7 separate regions of the Homo sapiens genome follow, and all the other regions are reported to be linked to region 7. Evidence: microRNA targets listed by miRTarBase, many of them from high-throughput screens and not tested one by one. Region 7 holds a microRNA gene; each other region holds the end of a gene's coding sequence.

Region 1 (4,067 bases), not on the chromosome of region 7:
CCGATGGATCGAGGACCATATAGGAGGGTAGTTTCTTAATTTATTGAAATCTGCTTTTATTCTATGATATAAATAGAATAAAATAGTAAACCTCAACTCTCTCATCTATAAAGTGAGGACATTTAAATACTGTGTACACAATTGAGGATTGGAATAACACTTATAACTTCCCATATAATTTATTATAATTAGTTTAAAGGAGTGTTTTTTTCTCTAATACAAAATTTAACATAAAACTTTTAATATATATTTGTACAAAATGGTTCATTATAAATGTATGTCAACTCTAATTGCCTTCCATTTAAACTTACAATTAAGTCTGTTGTAGTAGATTCTAGATCAAATATGTATGTGTGTATTTACAGTTAACTTGGAGACTTATAGTTATAAGACTAGTGTCCTCAGTGACTGCTATCTTCTGATTAAACTCTGAAAAATTAAGAGAGTCCATTTTAAAGCCTCTGATTGTGGAAAATACTTCTTGGTTGACATTAATACTGTCCATTCAATGCACTTCATAGAACATTTAACTTATTGTAAGATCATTGGCAGCAGTCTTATATATATTTCTAGTACAGTGAATGTTTAGTCAGAAAATGTACTTTCCTTGTAAAATCTATAGCTATTCATAATTTCTTCCTCTCAGTAAACTAACCAAAAATAGTTGTCTTAATCAGGTTTTATTGTTTTTCTTTCTTCACAGCTCCGACAGTTAGTTAATATGTGCATCAACCCAGATCCAGAGAAGCGACCAGACGTCACCTATGTTTATGACGTAGCAAAGAGGATGCATGCATGCACTGCAAGCAGCTAAACATGCAAGATCATGAAGAGTGTAACCAAAGTAATTGAAAGTATTTTGTGCAAGTCATACCTCCCCATTTATGTCTGGTGTTAAGATTAATATTTCAGAGCTAGTGTGCTTTGAATCCTTAACCAGTTTTCATATAAGCTTCATTTTGTACCAGTCACCTAAATCACCTCCTTGCAACCCCCAAATGACTTTGGAATAACTGAATTGCATGTTAGGAGAGAAAATGAAACATGATGGTTTTGAATGGCTAAAGGTTTATAGAATTTCTTACAGTTTTCTGCTGATAAATTGTGTTTAGATAGACTGTCAGTGCCAAATATTGAAGGTGCAGCTTGGCACACATCAGAATAGACTCATACCTGAGAAAAAGTATCTGAACATGTGACTTGTTTCTTTTTTAGTAATTTATGGACATTGAGATGAACACAATTGTGAACTTTTGTGAAGATTTTATTTTTAAACGTTTGAAGTACTAGTTTTAGTTCTTAGCAGAGTAGTTTTCAAATATGATTCTTATGATAAATGTAGACACAAACTATTTGAGAAACATTTAGAACTCTTAGCTTATACATTCAAAATGTAACTATTAAATGTGAAGATTTGGGGACAAAATGTGAGTCAGACACTGAAGAGTTTTTTGTTTTGTTTTAATATTTTTGATATTCTCTTTGCATTGAAATGGTATAAATGAATCCATTTAAAAAGTGGTTAAGGATTTGTTTAGCTGGTGTGATAATAATTTTTAAAGTTGCACATTGCCCAAGGCTTTTTTTGTGTGTTTTTATTGTTGTTTGTACATTTGAAAAATATTCTTTGAATAACCTTGCAGTACTATATTTCAATTTCTTTATAAATTTAAGTGCATTTTAACTCATAATTGTACACTATAATATAAGCCTAAGTTTTTATTCATAAGTTTTATTGAAGTTCTGATCGGTCCCCTTCAGAAATTTTTTTATATTATTCTTCAAGTTACTTTCTTATTTATATTGTATGTGCATTTTATCCATTAATGTTTCATACTTTCTGAGAGTATAATACCCTTTTAAAAGATATTTGGTATACCAATACTTTTCCTGGATTGAAAACTTTTTTTAAACTTTTTAAAATTTGGGCCACTCTGTATGCATATGTTTGGTCTTGTTAAAGAGGAAGAAAGGATGTGTGTTATACTGTACCTGTGAATGTTGATACAGTTACAATTTATTTGACAAGGTTGTAATTCTAGAATATGCTTAATAAAATGAAAACTGGCCATGACTACAGCCAGAACTGTTATGAGATTAACATTTCTATTGAGAAGCTTTTGAGTAAAGTACTGTATTTGTTCATGAAGATGACTGAGATGGTAACACTTCGTGTAGCTTAAGGAAATGGGCAGAATTTCGTAAATGCTGTTGTGCAGATGTGTTTTCCCTGAATGCTTTCGTATTAGTGGCGACCAGTTTCTCACAGAATTGTGAAGCCTGAAGGCCAAGAGGAAGTCACTGTTAAAGGACTCTGTGCCATCTTACAACCTTGGATGAATTATCCTGCCAACGTGAAAACCTCATGTTCAAAGAACACTTCCCTTTAGCCGATGTAACTGCTGGTTTTGTTTTTCATATGTGTTTTTCTTACACTCATTTGAATGCTTTCAAGCATTTGTAAACTTAAAAAATGTATAAAGGGCAAAAAGTCTGAACCCTTGTTTTCTGAAATCTAATCAGTTATGTATGGTTTCTGAAGGGTAATTTTATTTTGGAATAGGTAAAGGAAACCTGTTTTGTTTGTTTTTCCTGAGGGCTAGATGCATTTTTTTTCTCACACTCTTAATGACTTTTAACATTTATACTGAGCATCCATAGATATATTCCTAGAAGTATGAGAAGAATTATTCTTATTGACCATTAATGTCATGTTCATTTTAATGTAATATAATTGAGATGAAATGTTCTCTGGTTGGAACAGATACTCTCTTTTTTTTCTTGCAATCTTTAAGAATACATAGATCTAAAATTCATTAGCTTGACCCCTCAAAGTAACTTTTAAGTAAAGATTAAAGCTTTTCTTCTCAGTGAATATATCTGCTAGAAGGAAATAGCTGGGAAGAATTTAATGATCAGGGAAATTCATTATTTCTATATGTGGAAACTTTTTGCTTCGAATATTGTATCTTTTTAAATCTAAATGTTCATATTTTTCCTGAAGAAACCACTGTGTAAAAATCAAATTTTAATTTTGAATGGAATAATTTCAAAGAACTATGAAGATGATTTGAAGCTCTAATTTATATAGTCACCTATAAAATGTTCTTTATATGTGTTCATAAGTAAATTTTATATTGATTAAGTTAAACTTTTGAATTGATTTGAGGAGCAGTAAAATGAAAGCTATATCTATTCTAAACCTTATTTAGACATTGGTACCAGTTACCCAGGTGAAAATATGGAGTAACTTTGTTTTGTATGGTAAGGTTTAGGAATGGTGGATGAAGGGTATCTCTATATAAATAAAGTGCTCAACAATGTGCAATGATTGTAAATTTAGTAAGATATTACAGCCATTTCATGAATGCTTTACCATTCAACATAGTATCTATTACAAAACACCTTTCTTGTATCCATATACTTCAGGTGTTGCTGTTAACATTTACTATGATATTTATTTTAACCAAAATGTTACTCACATTAAATGTTTATTCTTTAAAATGAATGTATTATGTTTTTAACCCACAAATGCATACTTACCCTGTGCCTCATATTTCAATAGTACTGTAATATGGACATCTTTTGTGAAATACTTTTATTTTGTTATGCTTTAAATATACATACAAAAAGATTTCTGTTATTAGCTTTGAAAATTGTATAATATCCTAATATAAACAAAAATATAAAAATAAAAATGAATACAGTAAAATGTCTGGGTATCTATGATTTTTTCCCCTAAAGTCTTCCATTTTTTATTTTACTTAATACTTAATGTACAGAAACAGTTCTTACGCATTTTCATAACTTTGCCATTTTGGAGAAGCTTAAGAATTGGAATAGACAAGGGTGATAACAGAGATTACACAAATCCTAAAAAGTAGTTTTATCAACATGCATTAAACTAAGGACATCTTCAGGACATCATTTTCTGTTTTTGAATGAGAAACGTTTTCTAAAAGGTAAAAAAAAAAAAAAAGGAATATTAATCTTACTGCTTTGAATCTTTAGAGCAGGGGTGTCCAATCTTTTGGCTTCCCTGGGCCACATTGGAAGAAGAATTGTCT
Region 2 (4,067 bases), not on the chromosome of region 7:
CTGCAGTCTGCACCTGGCTGAGCTTTACTGTCGGTGTCTCTCCCACCCTGTCTCAGCCTTTGCTTCCATTCTGCAGTCTGCACCTGGCTGAGCTTTACTGTCGGTGTCTCTCCCACTCTGTCTCAGCCTTTGCTTCCATTCTGCAGTCTGCACCTGGCTGAGCTTTACTGTCCGTGTCTCTCCCACCCTGTCTCAGCCTTTGCTTCCAGGCTGCAGTCTGCACCTGGCTGAGCTTTACTGTCCGTGTCTCTCCCACCCTGTCTCAGCCTTTGCTTCCATTCTGCAGTCTGCACCTGGCTGAGCTTTACTGTCCGTGTCTCTCCCACCCTGTCTCAGCCTTTGCTTCCAGGCTGCAGTCTGCACCTGGCTGAGCGTACTGTCCGTGTCTCTCCCACCCTGTCTCAGCCTTTGCTTCCACGCTGCAGTCTGCACCTGGCTGAGCTTTACTGTCGGTGTCTCTCCCACTCTGTCTCAGCCTTTGCTTCCATTCTGCAGTCTGCACCTGGCTGAGCTTTACTGTCCGTGTCTCTCCCACCCTGTCTCAGCCTTTGCTTCCAGGCTGCAGTCTGCACCTGGCTGAGCTTTACTGTCGGTGTCTCTCCCACCCTGTCTCAGCCTTTGCTTCCAGGCTGCAGTCTGCACCTGGCTGAGCTTTACTGTCGGTGTCTCTCCCACCCTGTCTCAGCCTTTGCTTCCAGGCTGCAGTCTGCACCTGGCTGAGCTTTACTGTCGGTGTCTCTCCCACCCTGTCTCAGGCGCTGCACAGTAGAGGTTCAGAAGCTGATTGGACCTGAGCTGGTACCGGGACTGGGAACAAAAAGAGACAGAAACTTGTGAACATGACCCAGCAATAAGGGGTTGGGGAAGGTGAGCAGGGACTCCAGGTTCTGTGAACAGGGTCCACAGAGTAAGTGGATCGTGTCCAAGATGAGTCAGAATGTCTTTAGATGAACCTATCCTGGATGCTTTGCAAATAGCTAGGGAGAGCAACAGAAGCTACAAGTGAGTCTGGTTATGACACAGGACTCTTTCGGTGCCACTTTGCCAGCCAGAGACCTCCACGGCCGGCAACGCCCCTGCGCAAGGCCTCACGGCTCCAGGCTGTTGGAGGTACCTGCCCACTCAACCTGGGCTGGCTGTTGGAGGTACCTGCCCACTCAACCTGGCGGGCTGTGCGTGGCTTGTGCTTTGGGCTGGATCCCACGCTCGCCATGGGATCTGCACTCGGACTGCAGCTGGGCCGGGCATGCCATGACCTGCTTCCACCTTGGGTGCTGACGTCTGGATGAGAGGAACATGGTGGCGCCTGAAAAATCTGGAGACACCAGAAACCCTGGATCCCCAAAGGAAGTGTTATTCCCGCTGTCCGTGCTGTGGGTGTGAAGATGTGTGCTGCACATCCCAGTTTCCAGCACAGGACAAAGACTCAGAGAGGCACCTGCCAGGAGTCTCAGGTGATGGAACCCAGTGGCGGGCATGTGGGCAGCTGCCCCAGGTGGAAGGGATCGTGGCACAGCTCTTGGTTCCCCAGGCTGGCCCTGACCTTCGTGCTTTCCTGCCCATGGCCCAGACTTCCGAGCTCCATGTTGGGGATGCTCAGGGACAACCCTTCAGCCTCCCCCACCATGTCCCGGCTACTGCCCAGGATTCTTGTTCTCTGGAGGGTGGATCCAGCCCTCCCCATCTTGGTGCCCTACCAGGGCCAGGCTTCCCATGGCTCTTTCTGCAGCCCCTGGCACAGACTGTGGGGCGCACAGCCCGGGGAGCAGTGGGCCTTGGAGGGGCCAGGTCTGCATGTTCCCACCCCCATCATGGAGTTTGACACACCAGTGGGCAGGTAACTCAATCCCCCCTCACCTTCTCTTCATCTGTTAGGGGTGACAGGGTGCTCCCCGTGGGGCCAAGAGGATGCAGCACCCCCACCGGCTACCCTTCCGGCCACACCCTTCTCTCCTGGCCCACCTTCTGAGCTGGCAGGGCTTCCTTCCTGGCTTCTGCTGGGCAGTGTATTAGGGTCCTCTAGAGAGACAAAACCAATAATGGAGTTTAGGAGAGGGGATTTTTATTTGTTTGAGACAGAGTCTTGCCCTGTCACCCAGGCTGGAGTGCAGTGGCTCGATCTCGGCTCACTGCAACCTCTACCTCCCAGGTTGAAGTGATTCTCCTGCTTCAGCCTCCCGAGTAGCTGGGATTACAGGCACCCAGCACCACACCCAGCTACTTTTTGTACTTTTAGTAGAGACGGGGGTCTCACCATGTTGGCCAGGCTGGTCTTGAACTCCTGACCTCAGGTGATCCACCTACCTCTGCCTCCCAAAATGCTGAGATTACAGGGGAGAGCTACCGCGCCCGGCCAGGAGAGGGGATTTATTAGGCGAACTGGCCCACACACTTATGGAGGCTGAGAAGTCCTCCCATAGGCTGTCTGCAAGCTGGAGACCTAGAGAAGCTGTAAGTGAGGCTCAGTCCAGGTAAGAAGGTGGTTGAACCAAGGAAGCCAGTGGTGTAACTCTCATTCTGAGGCTGACTGGCCGAGAGCCCTGGGAGGCCTCTGTGGCAAGCCTGAGTCCAAAGGCCGAAGAACCTGGAGTCCTGATGTCCAAGGGCAGGAGATGGGTGTCTCCCTCCAGAAAAGAGAATTTGCTTGTCTTCTCCCTTTGTGTTCCATCTGGGTCCCCAACCAAGTGGATGTGCCTGCCCACGCTGAGGGCAGATCTTCACTGAGTCCACTGAAAACATCCTCACACACTCAGAAACAATGCTTCGCCAGCTGCCAAGTACAGTGTGTGTGCCTTAGTCCCAGCTACTCAGGAGGCTAAGGTGGGAGAAACGCTTGAGCCTGGGAGCTGGAGGCTGCAGTAAGCCATGATTGTGCCATTGCACTCCAGGCTGGCTGACAGAGAGATCCTGCCTCAAAAAAAGAGATAGATAGATAGATAGATAGATAGAGCTCCACCAGCCATCTAGGCTTTTTTTTTTTAAACAGGGTGTCACTCTGTCAACCAGGTTGGAGTGCCGTGGTGCTATCATAGCTCACTGCAGCCTTGACTTCCCAGGCTCAACCCATCCTCCCACCTCAGCCTCCTGAGTAGCTGGGACTACAGCGTACAGGCACAGACCACGATACCTGACTTATTTTTAAATTTTTTGTAGAGAAGTTTCACCATGTTGCCCAAGCTGGTCTCAAACTCCTGGGCTTAAGCAAACCTCCCACCTCAGCCTCCCAAAGTGATGGGATTACAGGCAGGAGACATGGCAGCCAGCTAAGGCTCCCTGTACCCTGTTAGTCGGCTTTACAGCACCTGGAATTGACCGCCACACGGAGCCTGGCGCTAAGGCCTGGCTGTGCCCAATGGTTCTGCACGAAGACCCGGGCCGGCCTGTGGGGAGCTCAGCTGCATATGCGTCTGTGGCGCCCCCTGTGCCCTGCTCTTTGGGGACTGAGCATAGCTGCCCCTCCCTCTCTCCCTTCTGCCCGCTCCTGGACATTTCCGGAAGGCCCCAGGAAATGGTGGCTGATAGTGGTTCCTGAGGCCACACCACGGGCTGCCTGGTGCCCTTTCCCTCCCCAGTGCCCGGCTGGAGCAAGAAGCCGAGCTCCTGATGGGAGCTGGCCCTTTCTTTAGACTTTGCTTCACCTTCAGGACAGGGGGTTCTGAATTTCTGCGCTAGGGCCCCGCCGGCTTGGGTGGGCTTCCAGCGTGAATCCTCGGCCTGTCGTCCCCGTCATCAGGAAGCCCAACAGGGCGCCCGCCTGCCCTCTGTGTCCTCCCCGGGCTCGCGGCCGTGCACCTTCTGGTGCTGGATGAGGGTGGACAGCCGGCTGCAGGCCCTCCCGCAGGCGCGGCACCGGTATGGCCTCTCGCCGCTGTGGAGCCGGTAGTGCTCGTTCAGCGTGTAGCTCCTGCGGAACGCCTTGCCGCACTCGGTGCACGCGAAGGGCTTCTCCTTGGTGTGGATCTTCTGGTGCAGAGTGAGGTTGGACTTGCGACCGAAGGCCTTGCCGCACTCCGCGCACTCGAACGGCTTCTCGCCCGTGTGTAGGCGCAGGTGCAGCAGCAGCAGGG
Region 3 (4,067 bases), not on the chromosome of region 7:
GCCCAGCCCATTTCACAGTACTTTTTATTTAACCCTATCGTGCTAGGGCACTATGCAATATACAGCTATTTCATTTTCCTTTTGTCTCTGTTTCCCAGGTGGTCTTCGAGGGATAGCACGAGGTGGTCTGACAGGACTAACACTTACCAGCCTCTATGCACTATATAATAACTGGGAGCACATGAAAGGCTCCTTGCTCCAACAGTCACTCTGAAGATTTTGCCAACTCATGAATGGAGGACACTTCAGTAGTCATCTAGATCCTTTTATAAGACAGTTTGGAGTTATTCTCTCTCTTCTACCTACAATTAGTTTGAAAAATTGGAGATTTTGATTTGCTGTGATGAAAATCCTGGATGGCTGACCAAGACTGGCACTTGTTCCAGCCATTAGTGAGTTGAAGCCAAAGCCCTTTGGTGACTCACTGAGTACCATGGTTCTGTTCTCCTCTGGAGATCTTGCACGTATCTGTTTTCCTCCCCCATGAACTAGAAAACCACTTACTCCCAGAATTCAGGTCGTGCTTGTTAGTACTATATCACCAAGTCCATTCATTTAATGATCCAAAACTGTAATGTTGCACTGTATTCCAAATAAAGGGTAAAAACAGAACCAAAGTTATAACTCCAACACACAAACATAGTGGTTGTCTCAATTTAAAAGTATCTACCTGGGTATAAAGTGAAAGGTACCCTTGGCATTTTTTGTCCCAGTGGGCAAAACAACATCTTCGTGTTTGTGTTAAAATGAGCTACTTGGTGGCCGGGTGTGGTGGCTCACGCCTGTAATCCCTGTACTTTGGGAGGCCAAGGCAGGTGGATCACCTGAGGTCAGGAGTTTGAAAATCAGCCTGGCCAATATGGTGAAACCTTGTCTCTACTAAAAATACAAAAATCAGCTGGGTGTGGTGGGTGTGCACCTGTAACCCCAGCTACTCAGGAGGTTGAGGCTGGAGAATCGCTTGAACCCAGGAGGCGGAGGTTGCAGTGAGCCCAGATCATGCCACTGCACTCCAGCCCAGGTGACAGAGTGAGACTCCATTTCAAAAAAAGAAATGAGCTACTGGTGGCATTCACCAATAGAGCTGGTACTAAACCACCTCAAGGTATTTCAGGTCAGCCGTTAGACTAGTATGCTAGAACAATCTTTCCAACAATCCTGCTTCATTCCATACATATTAACTCACACCTTACTAGGAATAATTAAGAGCTAGGTTTTTTTTTTTTTTTTTTTTGAGACAGGGTCTCTGTTCCCCAGGCTGGAGTGCGGTGGTACAATCTCAGCGCACTGCTGAGATTACTTGAACACCTCCCGGGTTCAAGTAATTCTGCCTCAGTCTCCCAAGTAGCTGGGATTACAGGCACTTGCCACCATGCCCAGCTAATTTTTGTATTTTTAGTAGAGGCGGGGTTTACTATGTTGGTCAGGGTGGTCTCGAACTCCTGACCTCAGGTGATCCACCTGCCTTAGCCTCCCAGAGTGCTGGGATTACAGGCGTGAGCGACCGTGCCTGGCCAAGAGCTAGATGTTTTTCAAGGAAGCCTTGGGAAAACTAAAGGACATGAGGCCAAATTGTTTAATTTCTGAGTTTGTTTTCTCATCCACCATATGAAGTTAATCATGTATAATTGCACTACAGGTTATACACATAAATATTACTGTATTAAATACCTGGTGGCTATATGATTGGAGAAAGTAAACTAGGGCCTCTTCGGATGCATCTAGTAAGAGGAATCCAGTAGAAAGGCACTGAATCTTGGCTGAAGTCCCATAGGTTTTTTTTTAATAGATGTGAATAGTTTTTATAAAAGACTGAAAATGGAGGTTAATATACCTATTGTTTGCTAATTTTTCATAAAATACACTGATGTTATTTTTATGTTCAAGCTGTTTCTCAGCTGGATTACTAACCAAAAGTTACCACGTTATGTGGTACCACACCACACTTTGTGACAAATAGTTTTAAAAATAACACGCAACAACTATGGCTGTTATGCTTTTAATGGAAGCAGATACAAAATTCATCAATGCAAAAGAATGTTTTACATACTCATTAACATAGTGATTAATGTAAATTATATTTTGACTTGTAAAATACAGTGTGTTTGGCCTCAAGAAACTACAGAGCTGCAACTCAAGATAACTGGAAAGGCTCCTTACATTGTTTTTGCCCACCACCTTTATATAATACTCCTAAATGATATCTGGGGAGGGAATTAAAAAATAATACAAAGCTCTTTTCAGCTGTGGTTCAAAGAACTCTAGTGAAGCTGTATGGCAATGACATTTTGGGACCATGAAGTTTCCCCAGAAGTATTTCCGGTAAGAGGCAGTTAAGAAGCTTAATAGTTTCAAAGTCTGGAAAGCAGCAAAGATATCTTAGAGAAAACATTATAAACCCCACTTCTCTCCTACACAGACATTTTAAAGCATGGACGTAACTTTAAGGAGACTGAGAAAACATCAGTAGTTTTCACAAAGCTTCAATGAACACCCCAAGGCACAAGTGTTGAAAACGGCCTGTTCACTAAAACGTCACTTTTGGAGGTACAGGTATGCTGTGCTTGCAGTGAGAGGATGACTTTATCCCTACTTAAAAGCACCAGGTGTCAAGCTCAGCTTCCATTTACACAGGATGCACCAATTATCCCTATGATAGTGACTGTTTCAAGTACTATACTACATTTCCAACATGTCTTTTGCCTATTTGCTTAGTCGGTACTGGGGTTCTTTTAAGCCCCGTAGGTCTGTAGAATATTTTAAAAGGCTAGAATTACCTCAAAAATAGTCTTGAAATAATACTGAGTCCTTCTAAAGAGCTCACTGGATATTTTAATAACATTTACAGAAAGACAAAATTTGCAGTAGCTGAGTTTAAGTGAAGAATAATGTAGAACTAACGTGGGCTAAAATGTTTCATAATTAATGTCAAAAATTGCCAAGATTATTAATATATATTTTGGTAATCACTATTGACCAGGTTAATTTTTTTGTGCAAAATACACTATGTATTAATAGAACAGGAAAATAATTATTTCAGACCACTAACAAAAGAAAACCCACAGCAAGAGAAGCATCTGTAGGGCAATTAAACGTTAGGGAAGTTTACTAGCTTTAGAATACATCAATATACTTCGATAAACAAGAGTGTTTTAATGTACTTTTAGTAACGACCCAATCTAAGGAGCCTTGGAGGCTTGTGAAAAAGACGTCCACAAAGATGCTGCATTTCTAGTGTGGGGTGAATTAAAATACTTCTGTAAGAAGGAGGGAACTGAATCACCTCAGCATGAATAAACAGCATTTTTCTTTTAAACAGTAACTCATAATCTGATGACTCACTTTGCTTTACTAGTTCAAAATTAGGCAGGAGAAGAACTAAGCTAATTGGTCAGACCCAGAAACACAAAGATTTGGCAAGCTGCAGTCACTCAGCTCATGATGTGTGATAATCAGCAGAAAGGCTGCTCAACTCTTGTCCATTCCTTCACATCTGTAAAGAGACACCCACAGATGATAAGTTACTTCAATGAAGAATAAAAGCAAATTTTCCCTGCCTTAAAGCTCCGACTCATTTCCCAATACAGGTATACCCTTGTTACATTGTATTTTTTACAAATTAAGCATTTGTGTCATGAACTATGCCCATTAAAGATGGTAAACTTTTCATCAATAAATGTCCTGAATGCCCACCAAACAGCCTTTCCCTATTTCTCTTCTCTCTCCTCAGGCCTCCCTGTTCCCTGAGACAAAACAAGATTGAAATTAGGCCAATTATTAACCCTACAATTGCATCTAAGTGTTCAACTAAAAGGAATAGTCCCCATCTCTCACTCTTCTTTAAATCAAAAGCCAGAAATGATTAAACTTAGCGAGAAAGTCATGTTGAAGGCCACGAGAGGCTGAAAGCTGGGCAGGCCTTTTGGACCAGCCAAGCTGTGAGCACAAAAGCAAAGTTTTTTGTTGTTTTTCAGCTTCTCATTCTCTGGCTGAAAAGTTCTTGAAAAAAACTAGAGGTGCTACTCCAGTGAACAGATGAATAATTTAAAAAGCAAACAGCCTTATTT
Region 4 (4,054 bases), not on the chromosome of region 7:
TCCCAGGCCTCTTTGCAGCATTGGGTTCTGCTGGCATGCTTCGAAACGCTCTTCATTGCTTTCTCGGCATTGCACTCTCCCTCCTGGCTTCCTCCAACCCACAGCTGCTCCCCTGCTGGCTCCCCCTCCTCCTCCTCCAGATTCTCTTCTCCTCATATGCTCCATAGATGATCCCATCGCACTGCAGCCTGACCTCCATCTCCACGTTCAAGTCTCTCAATTCTAACTCCAGACATTCTTTTTAAATTCCAAAGTCTAGTATCCAACTGCCTATATTCAGTCTAGTCACATCGAATCTTTCCAAAACTCATCATTTCTCCCATCCCCTGGCCTCTGTCTTAGCAAATGGTCCAGCCATCCACTCATTCCCCAAAGCCTGGTATCTGGGCACTGCTGGCAGCAGCAAGGATGCACCACTCTCCTGCCCCTCACCTTTCTAGCTGCTGTTTACCCTAAGATGTTCTTCCTTTCCTTAAAAACTGTATTTGACATATACAAACATTACCTACAAAATCACCATACCAGATTTTAGGTTATCATTCCACTTTGCCTTTATTTTTTATAATATATTTAAGTAGAACATATTTAATATGTAAAAAACTGTTATCTATTAGTTATAAAGTATAATGTATTAATAGCATATAGTAAACACTTGTAAGCCTACCAGGAGGAACCAGAACAGCTGCATAACTTGGCATCTACCTATGTGCTCCTGTCCCTTCCACTTCCTCCTTCTGTGGGTAATTACTATGCTCAATTTTGGTTTATCAGTTACCTTCTTTTTTTTTAATAGCATAGTTTTATTGTATACGTATGCTTAGACTACATATTCTTTGGTTTTGCTTGTTTTTGGGCTCAATAAAAATAGTACGCCCCATGTGGTCTCTTCAAACTTGCTTTTTTCCTTAATATTTTCTGAGATTCATTCTTATTGTGAGGTATAGCTGTAGTTCACTCATTTCCACTACTGAATAATATCCCGTAGAATGAATATATATATCTAATTATTCACCTATTTTCCTGTAGACAGACATACATTTCACTTTTTCCAGTTATTAACTATTATAAATATGTAACTATGAACATTCTTACACATTCCTCCTAGTGGCCACATGCAAGAGTTTGCTGGACATACAGGTGGGAGTTGGAAGCAAGATCATAACGTCTGCAAATGTTCAAGTCTGTAAGGGATAATTGTTTTTTAAAGCAGTGGTGCCTGTTTACACATCCACAATGTTGTACAAGTCCCTACAGATCTAACAACTGGTACTGTCAGACCCAACCTTTGCAAATCTTATGGATATAAAATGGAATCTCATTGTGGTCCTAATTCATATTTCCCTGACCAATGCTACAGAACATCTATTTATTTAAAAGCCCTATTTCCTCTTGTGTAGTCTTCACTATTTTTCTATTTTTTTAAATAGGAATTCTCTATATTTGTGATTATGAATCCTTCATCAGTTATTTGTATTATAAATGTCTTCTCAAGTTGTGGATCATCTTCTCACTTCAAGTGTTTGCTTAATATAAGCCTTGAGTTTTAACAGAATTGACTTAACCATCTTGTCCTTTATGATTACTACTTTATGTCTCAAGAGATTCTTTCCTGCCCTAAGGCTTTTTTCATCCAAACACTGACAATTTTTGCTTTTTGTATTAAAGCCCTTAACATATTTGGAACTTATCACCAGGTAAGGTGAGAGAAAGTAAAATTTCTTTTTTTCCCACATGAATAGCCATTGTTCTGGGATTACTTAGGGAGTGGTCCTTCCTGTCCCCACTGACTTGCCATGTCACCAGGTCATTTTGCAAAGGTCAACATATGCACGGGTGAGTTTCTAGGCCCTTATTTTGTTCCCCTGCTCAGAATGCCTACCTCTGCACCATGACACTGTCTTGACAATAAAACTTGGTATCACATAGGGTGCGTGTCCCCAACCTCTCCTTCATATTTAGAAGCATTTGGTAATTTTAAGTCCTTTGCTACTCCATATAAACACCTGCTTGTTTCATTCAATAAAATCTGTTGGAATTTCCATTGAAAATGGTATTAAATCCATAGATCAATTTTAGGAGACCTGATACCTTTATAATCTTGAATATTCCTATTCATGAACAAAGATGGTTCTTCATTTGTTCCTCCCTTGCTTCTTCGTCTTCATCCTTCGAATCAAACCAGGACTCCAATGTTACCTTCTCCTGACTATTGCCACCACCATCTTGAAGTAGGATGAGTGTATATTTTGCATGCAAATTTTTGAAATAACTGCAATCATCCAAGAAAAAGATGACATGGTTGAGTTTGAGGCTTGTTGCTTGAGTGGTGGCACCATTCTTCATTACTGAATATATTGAGAATTGAGGGGAATAAAATGGTAAGAAATGAGTGACTTTATGCTGCCCACTTGTCCAACTCCGCACGGGATATCAGAGCCCAGCTGAGAACCTGCTCAATCCTGGAAACAATTAAAAGATGTTAACCGGCCAGGCTCGGTGGCTCACGCCTGTAATCCCAGCATTTTGGGAGGCTGAGGTGGGCAGATCACGAGGTCGGGAGATCAAGACCATCCTGGCTAACACAGTGAAATCCTGTCTCTACTTTTTTGTATTTTGTAAAAACACAAAAAATTAGCCGGGTGTGGTGGCGGGCACCTGTAGTCCCAGCTACTCTGGAGGCTGAGGCAGGAGAATGGCATGAACCCAGGAGGCGGAGCTTGCTATGAGCCGAGATTGCGCCCCTGCACTCCAGCCTGGGCGACAGAGCCAGACTCTGTCTCAAAAAAAAAAAAACCAAAACAAAACAAAACAAAAAAAATGTTAACCACCCTTAACAGTAACTTTCTCTCCTCATTTCCTTTTTGTTTCCTCAGGGGTACGGAAATATGAAATTATGGGAGGACGAAAATGCCCAGAAAGCATGGCTGCTTGACCACACTGGGGCAAATGGCTTCAGTGTTTCTGACAAGCAAGCAGTGAGCGCATGCCTTTTGCCAAAGGGAGTTCTGCAGCCATTTAGTCCAGCCTTTAGAAAACGAGGTCTTCCGAAGAGAACAGAGCTACACCTTCCCCGTCAGAATCCACTGTTATAACCACTTAGATTAAAATGCCCCATTTCTCACAGTATCATTTTGTCACAGGGTCACACTTCTCTATTCAACTCAGTTTCAGGCTTTTCTTCTAAGAGGAAAAAAAGACGACTAAGTGGCCTCCTAGATTCCACTGTAAAAACAGAAAAAAGCAGGTTGACTTGCTTTGAAATCAAACGACCTCTGTCTTCAGTCTGTCCCCATCTCAGAGGGACCAGGGAAACCACAGGAACCCTGCTCACTGCTCTTCACGCAAGGTCCCAAAAAAACAGCGCCTGTTTTCCAGGCACTGCAGGAAGACCCTGCTCCTCTACAAGGTTCCACTAAATAGTCTTCGAAAACCAGAAGCAGGTAAGTGTCAGCCAGATGCACACAGGTTTTTTGTTGTTGTTATTTTTAAGGCACCCTAGGTTGTATTTCCTTGAGGATCATCAAGAATAAAAAAGGCAAAAAAAAAAAAAAAGTTAGTCTGTATCATATCCCAAAATGGGTCCAAGCCATTTCTCAACCTCAGCCACAGATATGTTCTTCCTCAATGCATAATCCTCAACCTGCAAAAGATGAGAAGCATTTTATTAAACCAACATGATAAGACTTTTGGAATAGAAGTTTCCACAAGATTTGCCAAGAAACATTAAGTACCTTGCATTTCTTGTCTTAATAGCAATCTACAGAGTTAAATGGAGATAGATATTTATCTACCAAGTTGCCTTTTTCTCTGGGCAGAAAAACATGTAGTAAACATCTGATGCTTAGAAGCTGTATGTGTGTGTGTGTGTGTGTGTGTGTGTGTGTGTGCGTGTGTGTGGCTTGCATGTAGAAGTGAGGGCTAGAATAGAGGTATTCTATTGAAATCAAATTAAGACATTAACTGGAGTAAATTTCTTCATCCTTTCCCCTCACTTTATTCTCATTCACATTTAAAATGAGAGAGGTTCTAGAATTTCATTTGAACTAGGCAAGCC
Region 5 (4,067 bases), not on the chromosome of region 7:
CTGCAATTCCAACAGGCATCGCTATGCTCTTCCTTGGTCTGTAAGGACTGGATGCCTGGAGTAGACTGTTTTAAGTACCAAAACAAGACACCCATTTTAGTGTGGAGGAAGACCAGCCTATATGGCCCAGAGCAATAATATTTGGCATGAGTATGCCACTCTTGAGAAAATTCTCCTTAGCTTAGAAAATGCATCTTTCACACAGCTGCTGGGAGAAAACGCTGCAATGCACCAAAGCCTTTAGCCGGTGTACCCAGAATGAGCCTATGTGGGATCAATAGGCACGGGGAGAAAGATGGCAGAGAAGGGAAGAGGAGGGAGGAGGAGGGAAGGAGGAGGAGAAAGAGGTGGAGGAGGGAGGAGGAGCGGAAGGGGAAGGGGGAGGGGTAAGGGCGAGGGCAGAGGAGGAGGGGGAGGGGATGGGGAAGGGGGAAGGGCGAGGGCAGAGGAGGAGAGAAGAGGGAGGGAGGCTGTGGAATGAGACAGCAGAGATGGCGATGAGGTCATCACGCAGGAGGAAATCTCACCCACACGAGGTGGACTTACAGGGCTGTGTGCTGCCTGGGCAGGCTGGACATGTCCAGGGCGGGGAAACCCTGGATATTTCACTCTGAAGTGGTTTCTTGAAAGAAAACTCAACTGACTCAGGCCATGAGCATCTTTTACACTGAAGCAAGCATCTCCTCACAAGTGCCTCCTACAAGTCACTAGAGTCATATTCAACATTACAAAATGCAGTGCTACTTAAATTTTAAAGCACTGAGGGACCAAGAAATGGGCTGATCAAGTCCTTGGCCACTCACTGTTAAGAGCCAGGATTTACAGATCAATGACTGTTCCTATTGTCCAAGAAATAATTTTCTAGCAAAGCATACACACTTTATTAAATTTCACAGCCAGCAGCGCTTTCAGTCCACAACAGATTTCTCAGAGGAAACATGGATATTTTGCGTAGGCAGAAACAGTGAGGAGTACAAAGCAAAGCTATAAATACCACCAATGGTTCTGCTATGTGCATCCGATATTTTTTGCCCGATCTGAAATACTGCAAGGGCTTAACCATTCAAACACCGCATGACAACGAACCCAGTGGACTGTGAAACTCAGGCTGCAGGAGGGTGGCTTGTCAGCTGGTGAAGCCACTTGGCTTTGGACTCCATCGGTCATCTTTACGCAAGAGCAGAGATGAACGGTGGGTCACGGCTATGACGTGAAGGAGAAAGAGAAGACACACTCACAGAACAGGATGGAGAGCTTCAATAATTTTTTAAAAGCTTGGAACCACCACCTGCTTTCCCAATCTTGGGCTGGGGTTTTGACTTTTCTTGATCATCAATCTGACTTGAAGCCTTTTACCAGTTACAATACAGACATGGCCAGATGACCTGCTTGTTAGGAAGGCTGTGGCCATCTTTGTTTCTGAAACAGTCTTATCTCATCTGTCCACTGCTGCTCTGGAAGGGTCAGGACCAGCACTGCAGACACTCGGCCATGCTGTGAGTGAGCCCAGACATACGCGTGGAATCTGAACACCCAACGCTGGCGTTCCCGTGCCAGTCTGAGGGCTGCGGCTCCAGCGCTTGTCCACACACACGCCTGCCTCTCTCTAGTTCCTCCACTGCCTGGCTTCCTCGCTTGCAAAACCCAGCATGTGAAATGAGGACACCTCCACGGAGACCCTTCCGAGCAGGGAGGTTTCATCACACCTTTCGTTCTTGCCAAGGAGTCTATCGCCTCATCCACAACATCTGCTTGCGGGAGAAACAGCAAATGTGTCCCTCTGAGGGAAGGACTGAGGAGGGCTTTGGTAGTCACAGATTGAGACACATTTCTGCGAAAACTGGTATTATGTTTCTGCACAGGAAAACAAAGTGTTAAAAATATTCCCATCCTCCCTCCAACTCCCTTCTGTCACACAGTCCCAAGTGAACTTGAAAAAGGTCCAGAAGTGAACACTTAGGGTGCATTTACCTTTCTCCTGAAGATGGGAAGACACACGGATGCTTGCCTAAAATATCTGCCGAGAGGTGAGCAGCTGTGGCCTGGGAAGGCGCTTGCTCTTCCTCCACATCAGCCAGAAGGCAGATCACACCTTCAGAGCACCCTACAGAACCCAGATGGCGAATCAAAGTGCAGAAAAAGAACACCCGCTTCCTCATTAGTCATTTAGGAAGATAAGATAGCATGGGACAGGGAGAACAACCATGTTCTGAATGGAGACTTTTTCAGGTTCCCAAACTTGGGACAGTGAGTGTGACCCCACATCCTGTGGTTTCTGCCTGACCCTTCTAAGCCAGAGGTGAGAAAACAACTCCCAGAGACCACGACTCTCACCCTCGGAGGTACCTGTTCCCCTGCAGGTGTGGCTCTCTGACAACCCCTAGGCAGGGGTGGGCTCCAGCTTTTGGAAGCAACCCTACCTAGCTGGCCCCCCAAGCATTAAGAAGCTTCCCTGATGGGGCCATGTTTTGGTCTCCTTTTAAGCCCTCAGTCACAATGTACCTTCTGAGCTTGTCCTACTATTCAGATGATTTTCTCTCTGAGTTGCAATACTGCTCAATTTAGGTGGCTACCTGTGTTCATTCAAGCTCTGGAAGTGTGGAAGGGAACTTAATCATTGAGTTTCTGTGAAGTATTTTGCCATCCTAAAATCCCTGAGAGTGAAACTGTTGAATCATGCTCACTTTCTTCACATACATACTCTTGGACTATGGGGACCAAGTCTGTTGAATTCATCTATTTAGAAATCCTACTAGCCTACAGGAAAAGCTTTTTAATGGGGATGATTTGCTTGGACTTAAGTATTTGCTTAAATACTACCTATTCTGCCCCCAGCTGCTCCTTGAGGAAAACTTTCCATTTCCCCCAAAATTCTGATCAAACACAACAAAGCCACAAGCATGAAGGGAAGCCAGACAGTGCTGCTCTGGGCTGTCAGGGAGTGGATGTCCAGGCAACGCCACAGGATAATGCTTTTTGAACTTAAAAATACATTTCTTTCCATCCATCAGGCAACATCTCAGTCAGAAAACCACCTCCCACCACCTGTGCTGTGCCACAGGGCATGATCCTGACAGCGACATCACAGCCTTCTTTTCCTGTTGGAAAGAAGACCACTGGGCCTCAGGAGCTGCTGTCCTGGTCACTCTCAGCATCTGGAATAAGGGTCTGGGGCAAAGCCGAGGGCAGGAATCCTGGGGCAGGTGCTACATCCTAAACTGGGTTTTGACTTTGCTTTCCAAAGTCACCTGTTTTCGTTCATTTTTGTCTCCCAAACAGGCAATGGCACTCTCCCCGCCCTTCTTCTTAAGTCCCAGGGTCCTCAGTAGACATTTCCTAAAGCATCAGACAGACACCTCGCACCCTCCTTCCCCCTCCACCAGCCGTCCTTGCTACACTTCCCCACACATGGGGTCACAACTGCATACACCTTAGAGCTCCGAAATGAAGAAGAAAAAAAGAAACCTAAATTAAAAATGAATTCTTCCTTTTCTCTTCCTCTCCTCCTCCCTGTGCCCGCCCTCCCATTCCCGCCTGAAAGAGGATCCAGCTGCCTCTAAACAGCCACAGATCGTTTCCATAAAAGAGAGTACAAAATCAGGTTTCCGCGGCACTGTGCTCCAGCCATGTGCCCTGGTGTCACTGTCGGTGGTGCCAATAGTTCACTGTAGGAGCTGCTCCTGCTGTCCAATAGGACTATGAATAAGTTAACAGTTTCCTTGGACAGTGCCATCCTCAGGGTCGGCTCTGTCACACGGCGCCTTCCCACTCGCCCTGGGGCTCCACGGAGCCGTTGGTCACCTTCTTGACTTTCTTCATACTTTCCATCACCCCAGATGTTGTCACACTGAACAAGGAAAGAAAAAACAATTAGGAACATCTCACAGTCTCTTAGTAAAAGGCCATCTCTGCCACAGCACGGTGATTAGGACTGATGATGGGTGTTGGTTTTTGAAACAGACAAAATCTAAGTGTGATTCCTGGTTCGTTCCTTACTAGCTGTGTAACCTTGGCCAAGTCACTTGAACTCTCTGTGCTTAAGTAATTCTCACTTTCCAGAACTGTCA
Region 6 (4,067 bases), not on the chromosome of region 7:
TGGCTTAGGGAGCAGAAAGCTGAGTAACTTACATCCTTTATATCAGACACTATATTTTAACAGTTTAAGAAAACCTTTTACACTTTCTGGATTTAAGCATCAATATGTAAGTTGTTTCCTTTACAGGAAACTGAAATTAGTAAGAATTAAGTGAATATACTGACAGATGGCTCATTTGGGAACATGAAGCCTAGAGCAAAGCCAAGCTTCTATAACTCATAAAGTCAAAGGTAAAACATTCTGGATTCTTCAAACCTAAATGGGCACTTGTTATTTTCCACTTTTCTTCAACCATGAGCTAAGCCCTAACTAAAATCAAAGTTGATAAAGATTAAGTGGTAAACAAAAAAATTATTAAAGCTGTCCTTAACTCCTGTCTGAGTGTTTTTTAAGATATAGATATGCTTTCCACAGCATTCCATTTTGGCTGCCTCAAGCACCAGCACATGCAGTTTGTGAATCAATCTGTAGTAACTGTGTTCTAGCATTTATACAGAATGGAAGTTCAACCAAACCCAGCCCCATATGAACAGCCAAGGGAACACACTTCAGTGTAGGACTACAGAGCTTCTCTGATAAGCTACAGTTAAGTTGTAGCTATAAAGGAATATGACAAAGGAAAGTCTGGGTGCTAACATGCAGAAAGGCATTTTCAAAAATGCAAGCTAGGACTTAGCAGTTACTAATAGACTATTCTAGTGGGGGAAAAGGTTTCCTTGCAACCATCTGTATCTGGTATACCATACACACCGATGGAAGCTCATCCTTTATTGCAATTTTGTTTTCAAAATACATCAACACAGGCAAACTAGAAGGCTCCCAACTTCATAAATAACTTTTAAGTAATAGTACTACAATATGTAAGCACTTTTAGGAAGAAAACTCCTACTTCCTTAGAAGAAATAATATAATCCTCTTTTCTTTGTGTAAAATGATGGGCACAATAAACATGTGGTTTCCACAATTCTTACTAAGCTAAAAACAGCTCAAAGTTACTTATCATAAGACTAAATTCACTTATGCACTACTAGAAATTGCACCAAACATTAAGGCAACAGTTTCTCTAAGGGTCTATAAAGCCTGTTCATATTGAGTCTTTAGTATTCAATGCCATTTCTCACTAGCGGCAAGTTACTATTCCCACTGAAACCCCAACCCAAATGTGACATTACCAAATTTAAGTAAATTATTGCAACTATGACTAATTTAAGAAAGTCAGTGTTATGCAGTACTGAAAACCAAATAGGCAACAAGTTTTTGAAATTAAAAATAAACATTAAAAATGAGTTAAGAAGTGTCATGTAAACAGTGTTCTCCTGACTTAACTTTTATGAAGCCATTTTCAGATATTATAGAAATAAGAGGCATGGTTTAAGTGCTTCTGTGCATATTCATGAACTCAGTCCTTCACAGATACCAAGTCTATACTGAGGCACCTCCCAGAAGGTATGTGAAAGTGGGGGCTGGGGGTAGGGGGAGGCTTTCTGATTTACTAAATCAGAGTGAAACAGTACTGATCAATATTCTTGTGTTTCAAAATGATTTCGGTAGAAATGATTCCACCTACAAAATGCAGTCACCATTATAAAATCAAGGTTGGGGAGTCCTGCATATACTTGGAAAAAGAAAAACAAAGACATAAATCATGAATTTCCATAAGGTTCATGTAGAATAGTGAACATAATAATTTCAGGTGTTACATTTACAGTTTCCTAATATCAAGTATGGATTTCTGAGGTTGCTGAAATTGAACTCCCTGGGAAAGAATGTTATAACAATCACATGCAAAGGAATGGATCTTCTTATTAACCTGTTTTATTTTTTAAAAATTACTCAGAAACATATACATATATATATATATATATATACACACACACACATGCATACATATATATATATATATATATATACTTCCAGTGAGACATTAGTACCTTAATTTTATATTTTGATCACCAATTAAAGAAATTACCTTCGTGAACAGATGCATTTTATAAAGCTGAGATTTTTATAATTCTAGAGGCAACTTCCTCATCAAGTGTCCAACTAGGTCAAATATCAAGGGCTTAAAGCAAAGATCTGTTGGAAATTTTATAATTAAAAATAAATGACCAATGAAGAGAGGCAGCTTCTAAAAAATAAATATTTCATTTTGTTGTTAAACTGATATTTAATTCTAATTTAATTACAGATTTATTAGTTTGAGGCCAATTTTAATAGTTAAAAATTATTTATCATTTTGAAGTCTTAAAAATATCATTTTGTCAATTTTAAATTACCATTTTTCTGGTTAAGGCTACTTCAGATATAAAAGGTATCAAACTGCCCAAAAATACTTTGGAGCTGTTGCTACATACACAGACAATGCATCCTTTTAAAGGATCGTCTGCATTTTGACTTACATTATCTGATCAAATATTAGTTTTAAAAAATTATCAAAAGTTAGGTATTGCATTAAGAAAAGAATCCATCTCAAAATGTGAATCATGAACCTTGGCAGACAGTGATTCAAAGTAATCATTTCACTTTAATATCCAGGTTTGAATGTACAAATGCTTGCTAAATGTGATTAATGTTCTCATTATTTAAGAAACAGGATATTTCAAACTTTTGATTATGGTATATGCATTAATACATTACATTTAAAAAAAATTAGGTTAAACCAGTTATTCAAAAAAGGCATTAAACCATTATTAAAAACTAAATTGAAACTTTACTTTTTATATGAAAATTTATCATGCCATTGGGATTAATTTTAAAAAATCAAAAATGATTTTTGTCATTGAAACTGCTGAGGCTTTCAAATTCAGTAGTTGAATGATGACTGTTTCTTTAGTGAAACAATTCTTGCAATTGGAGACATTAAGTCTAAGAGTTTTCCTTCTGCTCTTGCTGTAGCTGTTTCTTCTGCATTTCAGCAACAAGAATGTGAAATCAGAAACATTAGGACTCTAAGTTGAATAAAGGCATTCATTTCATGGTAAACCTGTTCTTCACTTGCAATGAAGGATGTCAGCTTTTCTTACAAAACATATTATCAATGAATTAGAATATAACAATAGGTTATCTCAGTGATACAAATACAACTCATACCACAATAGAAACAGAAACATGGAGAACAAAAACATGTCCCCTAACAGAATAATTTGTATATTGATGATACAAGGTTTTATGCATGTATACTAATTTAAAAAAAAAAGTAGGCCAAGCACCTTACAGACGTGAAGGCTTTCTAAATAACAGGTTGCCTAAATTCTTTCATGAATATCCTTCCCCTTAATGGCCTACTCACACTAGACTATGCTCTTAAACAATGTACACGTGTATCACTCCTCAGTGGAATCCTTCCCTAGACATCTGATTCCCAGAAACGTTCTTTTAAAAAGAGGCTAGCTGAGCAATCAATGATACCAAATCTGTCTTTGTTCCCCAAGAGGAAGCAACAATACAAAACAGCTGGCAGCAGCTTCCTCTGGAATAATTGACAGCTTTGTGCTGCCTGACTAAAATTTGAAATGACAACCGCTGAATGTAAAATGATGTACCTACAATGAGAGAGATTTAGGAATACTATCTGTCAATCCATAGATGTAGAAACAAAACAAACTACAGAATGAAAACAAACTTATTTTAAACCAAAGAAACAAATGTATCCAAAATATAGTCCATGATATATTTGATTACTAGTATAACCACAGTTGAAAACTTAAAAAAAAAATTGACATTTTTTTGTAATGGTACTAATGGATTTATAAAAGGTTTCTGTTTCCAAAGATGTTATTGGGGTCCACATATTCCTTGACAGACTTCAGCATCCCAAAGCCGACATCAGAGATACTTTCCTTTAGCCATTGCTTCCGTAACTTGCCCACTGGAAAAACAAAATCAAAAATGCTTCAATATATGCTATGATACTGGGAACCAATCAATCTTGTGACCATGAGTGAACAAACACTGTGTGATAAATGCTTTTATTCAAAAATGAGAAATGTTTTGCTTTATTTGATTTATTGAGCCCACCAGACTATCAAGCTCATTAAGCCCAATGTATTCCCAGGGGAAGTCTGTGC
Region 7 (4,067 bases):
TGGCCACGGCCCCCACGTACCTCTCGCTCCTGCTCGTTCTTGGACAGCTGCATCTGCTTCAGCATCTGCGACCTCTGCTCCATCATTAGTGTCCTCTCGTAGGTGAAAGCAGATATGTCGTTTTCAACCTAGAAAGTTCCCAAGCACGTAGTAAGCCCGGTGTGCACAGAACCACGGATGGCTCCAACACCAGCCCGGTACCCAGAGACCGAGCCGCCCTGAGCGGTGGGAAAGGCCACGCGTCCCGGGCCCCACAGGCCCCCTCTGGCTCTCAGGCCCCCCGCCCAGTGGCCAGGAAGGTGTGAGCGCACGATGGGCAGTCACGCCGCACACACGCTCTGCTCATGTCCCTCCCCGGGACCCTCCGACCGGGCACAAGGGCAGCTGTGAGGGCAAGGCCACAGCCACAAACCAACCTGGCACACACGGCTCAGGGCGAGGCACTGCCCCATGGGGCTGCATGATCCACGCTCACAGGTGTCATTGTCTATGCTCAGGGGGGCTTGGCACCATGGGAAACCCACCCAGAACACATGGAGAAGCCACAGCACAACCTCAGCGCCCGCCATGCAGGACCCTGGGTCTCACCCATTGCACCCACCGTGCGGGACCCCTGCGCCTCACCCGGAACATCCACAGTGTGGGACTGCTGCGTCTCACCCACTGCACCTGCCGTGCAGGATCCCTGAGTCTCACCCGCCGCACCCGCCGTGCGGGATCCCTGAGTCTCACCCGCCGCACCCGCCGCACCTGCCGCATCCGCCATGCGGAACCCCTGCGTCTCACCCACCGCACCCGCCGTGCGGGACCCCTGCGTCTCACCCGCCGCACCCGCCGTGCGGGACCCCTGCGTCTCACCCACCGCACCCGCCGTGCGGGATCCCTGCGTCTCACCCACCGCACCCGCCGTACCTGCCGCATCCGCCATGCGGAACCCCTGCGTCTCACCCACCGCACCTGCCGTGCAGGATCCCTGAGTCTCACCCGCCGCACCCGCCGTGCGGGATCCCTGAGTCTCACCCGCCGCACCCGCCGTGCGGGATCCCTGAGTCTCACCCGCCGCACCCGCCGTACCTGCCGCATCCGCCATGCGGGACCCCTGCGTCTCACCCACCGCACCCGCCGTGCGGGATCCCTGAGTCTCACCCGCCGCACCCGCCGTGCGGGATCCCTGAGTCTCACCCGCCGCACCCGCCGCACCTGCCGCATCCGCCATGCGGGACCCCTGCGTCTCACCCACCGCACCCGCCGTGCGGGATCCCTGTGTCTCACCCGCCGCACCCGGCTCATGGGAGTTGGGAGCAGCTGTGCCTGTTAAGCACCAGTATTTAAAACAGCACACCAGATCAGGTGCGGTGGCTCACACCTGTCATCCCAACACTTTGGGAGGCCGAGGCGGGTGGATCACCTGAGGTCAGAAGTTCGAGACCAGCCTGGCCATCATGGTGAAACCCCATTGCTACTAAAAATACAAAGAAAAAAAAAAAAATTAGCCAGGTATGGTGACGTGTACCTGTAGTCCCAGCTACTCAGGAGGCTGAGGCAGGAGAATTGCCTGAACCCAGGAGGTGGAGGTTCCAGCCTTGGGGACAGAGCGAGACTCTGTCTCAAAACTTTTTTTAAAAAAATAAACAGCATGCCAGACTGAATGGCAGCGACCCAGACGCCCCTCTCCAGCCAGGTGGCACTTGTCCCTGCGGCCAGGGCTACGGAGGGGTGGGCAGCCCCAGCCCTGCCAGAGACATGGCTGGGAGCATGGGGGGTGCTGGGAGCTCCAGGTTCCCGGACTTCAGAGCTAACAACCCCTGCTCAGGAGCTGGGGAGCTGCTTCTGGCACCACGGAGGGGCTGGGGGTGCGGCTGGGGCCATGGGCTCACTTTGCCTGTTTCCTCTGGGCCCCAGTGGCCGCCCCACCTGGCCCCCTGGCAGGGCTGGTTCTCCCAGGCAGCATTTTGTTACTATTTTACTAAGCGGTTTTATGACTTGGAAATAACGTTATTCATACGACTATTAGCACCAATAATAACCCCTACAACCTTGAACCCGCAAAGCCTCGTCCAAACAAGACAAACTCCAGCCATCGTCCCCGAAGACACAGCCACATGGAAACTAAGCCCAGTGTACAAAACTGGGCAGAAAACCATCCAGCGTCACGCAGGCCTGCAGCCCTCGGCCTAGGAAAGGTCCTGCAGGGCAAGAGGAAGAACAACCCCACAGGACAACTGAGTTCCACGGGAACTGACACAGAAACACAGAAGGTTGTCGGTGAGGCACGAAGCCGTGCCTGGCCTCACTCACAGCCCGACACAAACCAGGAGCAGGTGCTCGGGGCCTCTGCCATACCCAGGGCTGGGGGGCTGGGGGGCTGGGGGACTGAGGGACTGGGGGACTGGGGGGCTGCGGGGCTGGAGAGACCGCACCTCCCAGGCTGCTGCAGGGGCACAGGTGGCTTCCTGGGGGACAGCGTGACAGTCTCTATCCAGCTTTATGTCTTCCCAGCACCCACCTCCAGGAGTCCAGGCCCCTGAGGACCTGCAAAACCATGCGCTGGGGTCACGGGAGCCGGAAGAAACCAGGACTTTGCGGGTTCTGACTTCAAGACCAGTGTTGTCGGCGTGATCCAAGTGGGGTCAGAACCCACAAAGTCCCGGGACCGCCAGCAGGACCGGAGGGGAAGGCACAGCCGTGGATCCGGGTGGGCTGGTAGCGAGCAGGCATGGTTCCATCCAGCACAAGGGGCCCACCAGATCCCCAGGATCCAGAGCTCCATGCTTGGGGGCCGGGGGCAAGCGCTCCAATGCCAGGCCTCCGCCCATCAACCCCGTCCTCTCCAGGCGTGAAGGACGGGACGAGTCTCTGTCCAGGCCCTGCCTATAGCTGACCGAGGGCCTGTCTGTCCCACGTGACAGCTGCAGCCTGGCCTCACTGACCAGTGCCCCTCTCCCCGGGTCCCGACTGCTGATGTGTGGTTTCCAGCCGTGGGAAGGTGAGCCCATCTGGGGAGAGCACCCAAAACGGGAGGTGCTCAGAGGTGCACCCACCATGGCAACACCACTGAGGTGTGAGGTCCTGGACGGGGTCCCGGGCCGAGGAGGACACGGGACCATGGAGGACACGGAGATGCTGATGCCGGCTCTAGGGCAACACCCACACCCGTGTTACACGAGGTGTCCACAAGCAACACACGGGGCTCTGTGCTTTCTGTGATGTCCTGGCGATTCCAAAACCAAGCCTCCTTGACCACCCCGCAAGGCCTGGCAGCCCCCGCCACAATCGCCACCACCTTCTCCTCCCCACCTCCACCTCCACCTCCTGATCTCCCCCTCCACCCCCACCTCACGAGGCCACAGCCCTCCCGATCTCCACTTCCCCCTCCACCCCCACCTCACGAGGCCACAGCCCTCCCGATCTCCACTTCCCCCTCCACCCCCACCTCACGAGGCCCACAGCCCTCCCGGGCCGCCCCCCACCTCCTCCCCACCTCCCCCCGGCCTCCTCCCCTCAAGCCCTCGGGACTCACCATCTCCACCACCTCCACCTCGGCGCTGATGCGCAAGTGGTACAAGAACATCTGCAGGTCCTTCTTCATCTGGATGCTGTTGTCGTCCACCTGGGCCACGGTGAAGATACGCATCCGGCACTTCCTCCACACCTGCAGACAGGGAGGGCATGGCTGTGGGGCCTCAGAGGAGCCCGTCCCGGCCCGCAGCACGTGGGGTGGCCGTGCTCCGGCTGGCGTGTCCCCGTCGCACGCCCCACCTTGTGCTGGCGCAGCAGGAAGGGCAGCAGCATGAGCATGCCGCCGTCGTGCACGATCCACCACACGTCGATGTGGCCCCCGCCGAAGCGCTCCTGGTTTTGCGGAAACGAGTCGACGTTCTTGGCCACCAGCAGAGCCTGGTGCGCGGCGGTGGTGTCGCGGACGGTGTCTGCGGAGAGAGGCGGCCGTCCGCAGGTCATCTGAGGCCAGGGTGCGGAAGGGGCCTCCCCGGGGACTCACAGCCAGTGCAGGGGCGGGCACGGCGAGGCGAGGGGGGTCCCCACAAAGCCCCCACCCTCACTCCGTC

What was found. Region 7 holds the annotated microRNA hsa-miR-4635 (UCUUGAAGUCAGAACCCGCAA, at 2,581-2,601, opposite strand). A microRNA usually pairs through its seed, bases 2 to 8, with sites in the 3' UTR of a target mRNA and lowers its output. Matches are read on the target gene's strand: a 7mer-m8 pairs with bases 2 to 8, a 7mer-A1 pairs with bases 2 to 7 and ends in A, and an 8mer does both.
Region 1: the mRNA of NEK7 is a reported target of hsa-miR-4635. Seed matches in the 3' UTR shown: 7mer-m8 at 1,780-1,786.
Region 2: the mRNA of ZNF517 is a reported target of hsa-miR-4635. Seed matches in the 3' UTR shown: 7mer-A1 at 2,272-2,278.
Region 3: miRTarBase lists NCOA4 as a target of hsa-miR-4635. Seed matches in the 3' UTR shown: 7mer-A1 at 2,789-2,795.
Region 4: the mRNA of MTR is a reported target of hsa-miR-4635. Seed matches in the 3' UTR shown: 8mer at 2,222-2,229 and 7mer-A1 at 2,097-2,103.
Region 5: miRTarBase lists GPR107 as a target of hsa-miR-4635. Seed matches in the 3' UTR shown: 7mer-m8 at 1,342-1,348 and 7mer-A1 at 622-628.
Region 6: the mRNA of AGPS is a reported target of hsa-miR-4635. The part of its 3' UTR that is shown has no 7-base or 8-base seed match.

Annotation. Positions count from the first base shown.
Region 1 is chr1:198,318,709-198,322,775 of GRCh38, forward strand. NEK7 (NIMA related kinase 7) reads left to right here. Exons shown (of 10, transcript NM_133494.3): 10 at 704-3,712. The coding sequence ends at 814. Among named protein-coding and RNA genes, the nearest start is that of NEK7, 160 kb to the left of the region's middle.
Region 2 is chr8:144,808,058-144,812,124 of GRCh38, reverse strand. It overlaps ZNF517 (zinc finger protein 517), which reads right to left. Exons shown (of 5, transcript NM_213605.3): 5 at 2,041-4,067. The coding sequence ends at 3,730. LOC100130027 (a long non-coding RNA gene) reads left to right here. Exons shown (of 5, transcript NR_147501.1): 5 at 1,049-3,315. Among named protein-coding and RNA genes, the nearest start is that of ZNF517, 11 kb to the right of the region's middle.
Region 3 is chr10:46,003,105-46,007,171 of GRCh38, forward strand. It overlaps NCOA4 (nuclear receptor coactivator 4), which reads right to left. Exons shown (of 10, transcript NM_001145263.2): 10 at 1,984-3,493. The coding sequence ends at 3,488. TIMM23 (translocase of inner mitochondrial membrane 23) reads left to right here. Exons shown (of 7, transcript NM_006327.4): 7 at 99-638. The coding sequence ends at 214. Among named protein-coding and RNA genes, the nearest start is that of SNORA74C-1, 21 kb to the left of the region's middle.
Region 4 is chr1:236,897,144-236,901,197 of GRCh38, reverse strand. It overlaps MTR (5-methyltetrahydrofolate-homocysteine methyltransferase), which reads right to left. Exons shown (of 33, transcript NM_000254.3): 33 at 1-3,640. The coding sequence ends at 3,554. Among named protein-coding and RNA genes, the nearest start is that of MTR, 100 kb to the right of the region's middle.
Region 5 is chr9:130,134,805-130,138,871 of GRCh38, reverse strand. GPR107 (G protein-coupled receptor 107) reads right to left here. Exons shown (of 18, transcript NM_020960.5): 18 at 1-3,847. The coding sequence ends at 3,751. Among named protein-coding and RNA genes, the nearest start is that of GPRACR, 7.4 kb to the left of the region's middle.
Region 6 is chr2:177,537,875-177,541,941 of GRCh38, reverse strand. It overlaps AGPS (alkylglycerone phosphate synthase), which reads right to left. Exons shown (of 20, transcript NM_003659.4): 20 at 1-3,868. The coding sequence ends at 3,747. Among named protein-coding and RNA genes, the nearest start is that of IFT70B, 13 kb to the left of the region's middle.
Region 7 is chr5:1,060,324-1,064,390 of GRCh38, forward strand. It overlaps MIR4635 (microRNA 4635), which reads right to left and starts at 2,651; the gene lies at 2,573-2,651. It overlaps SLC12A7 (solute carrier family 12 member 7), which reads right to left. Exons shown (of 24, transcript NM_006598.3): 19 at 3,760-3,929; 20 at 3,521-3,652; 21 at 21-128.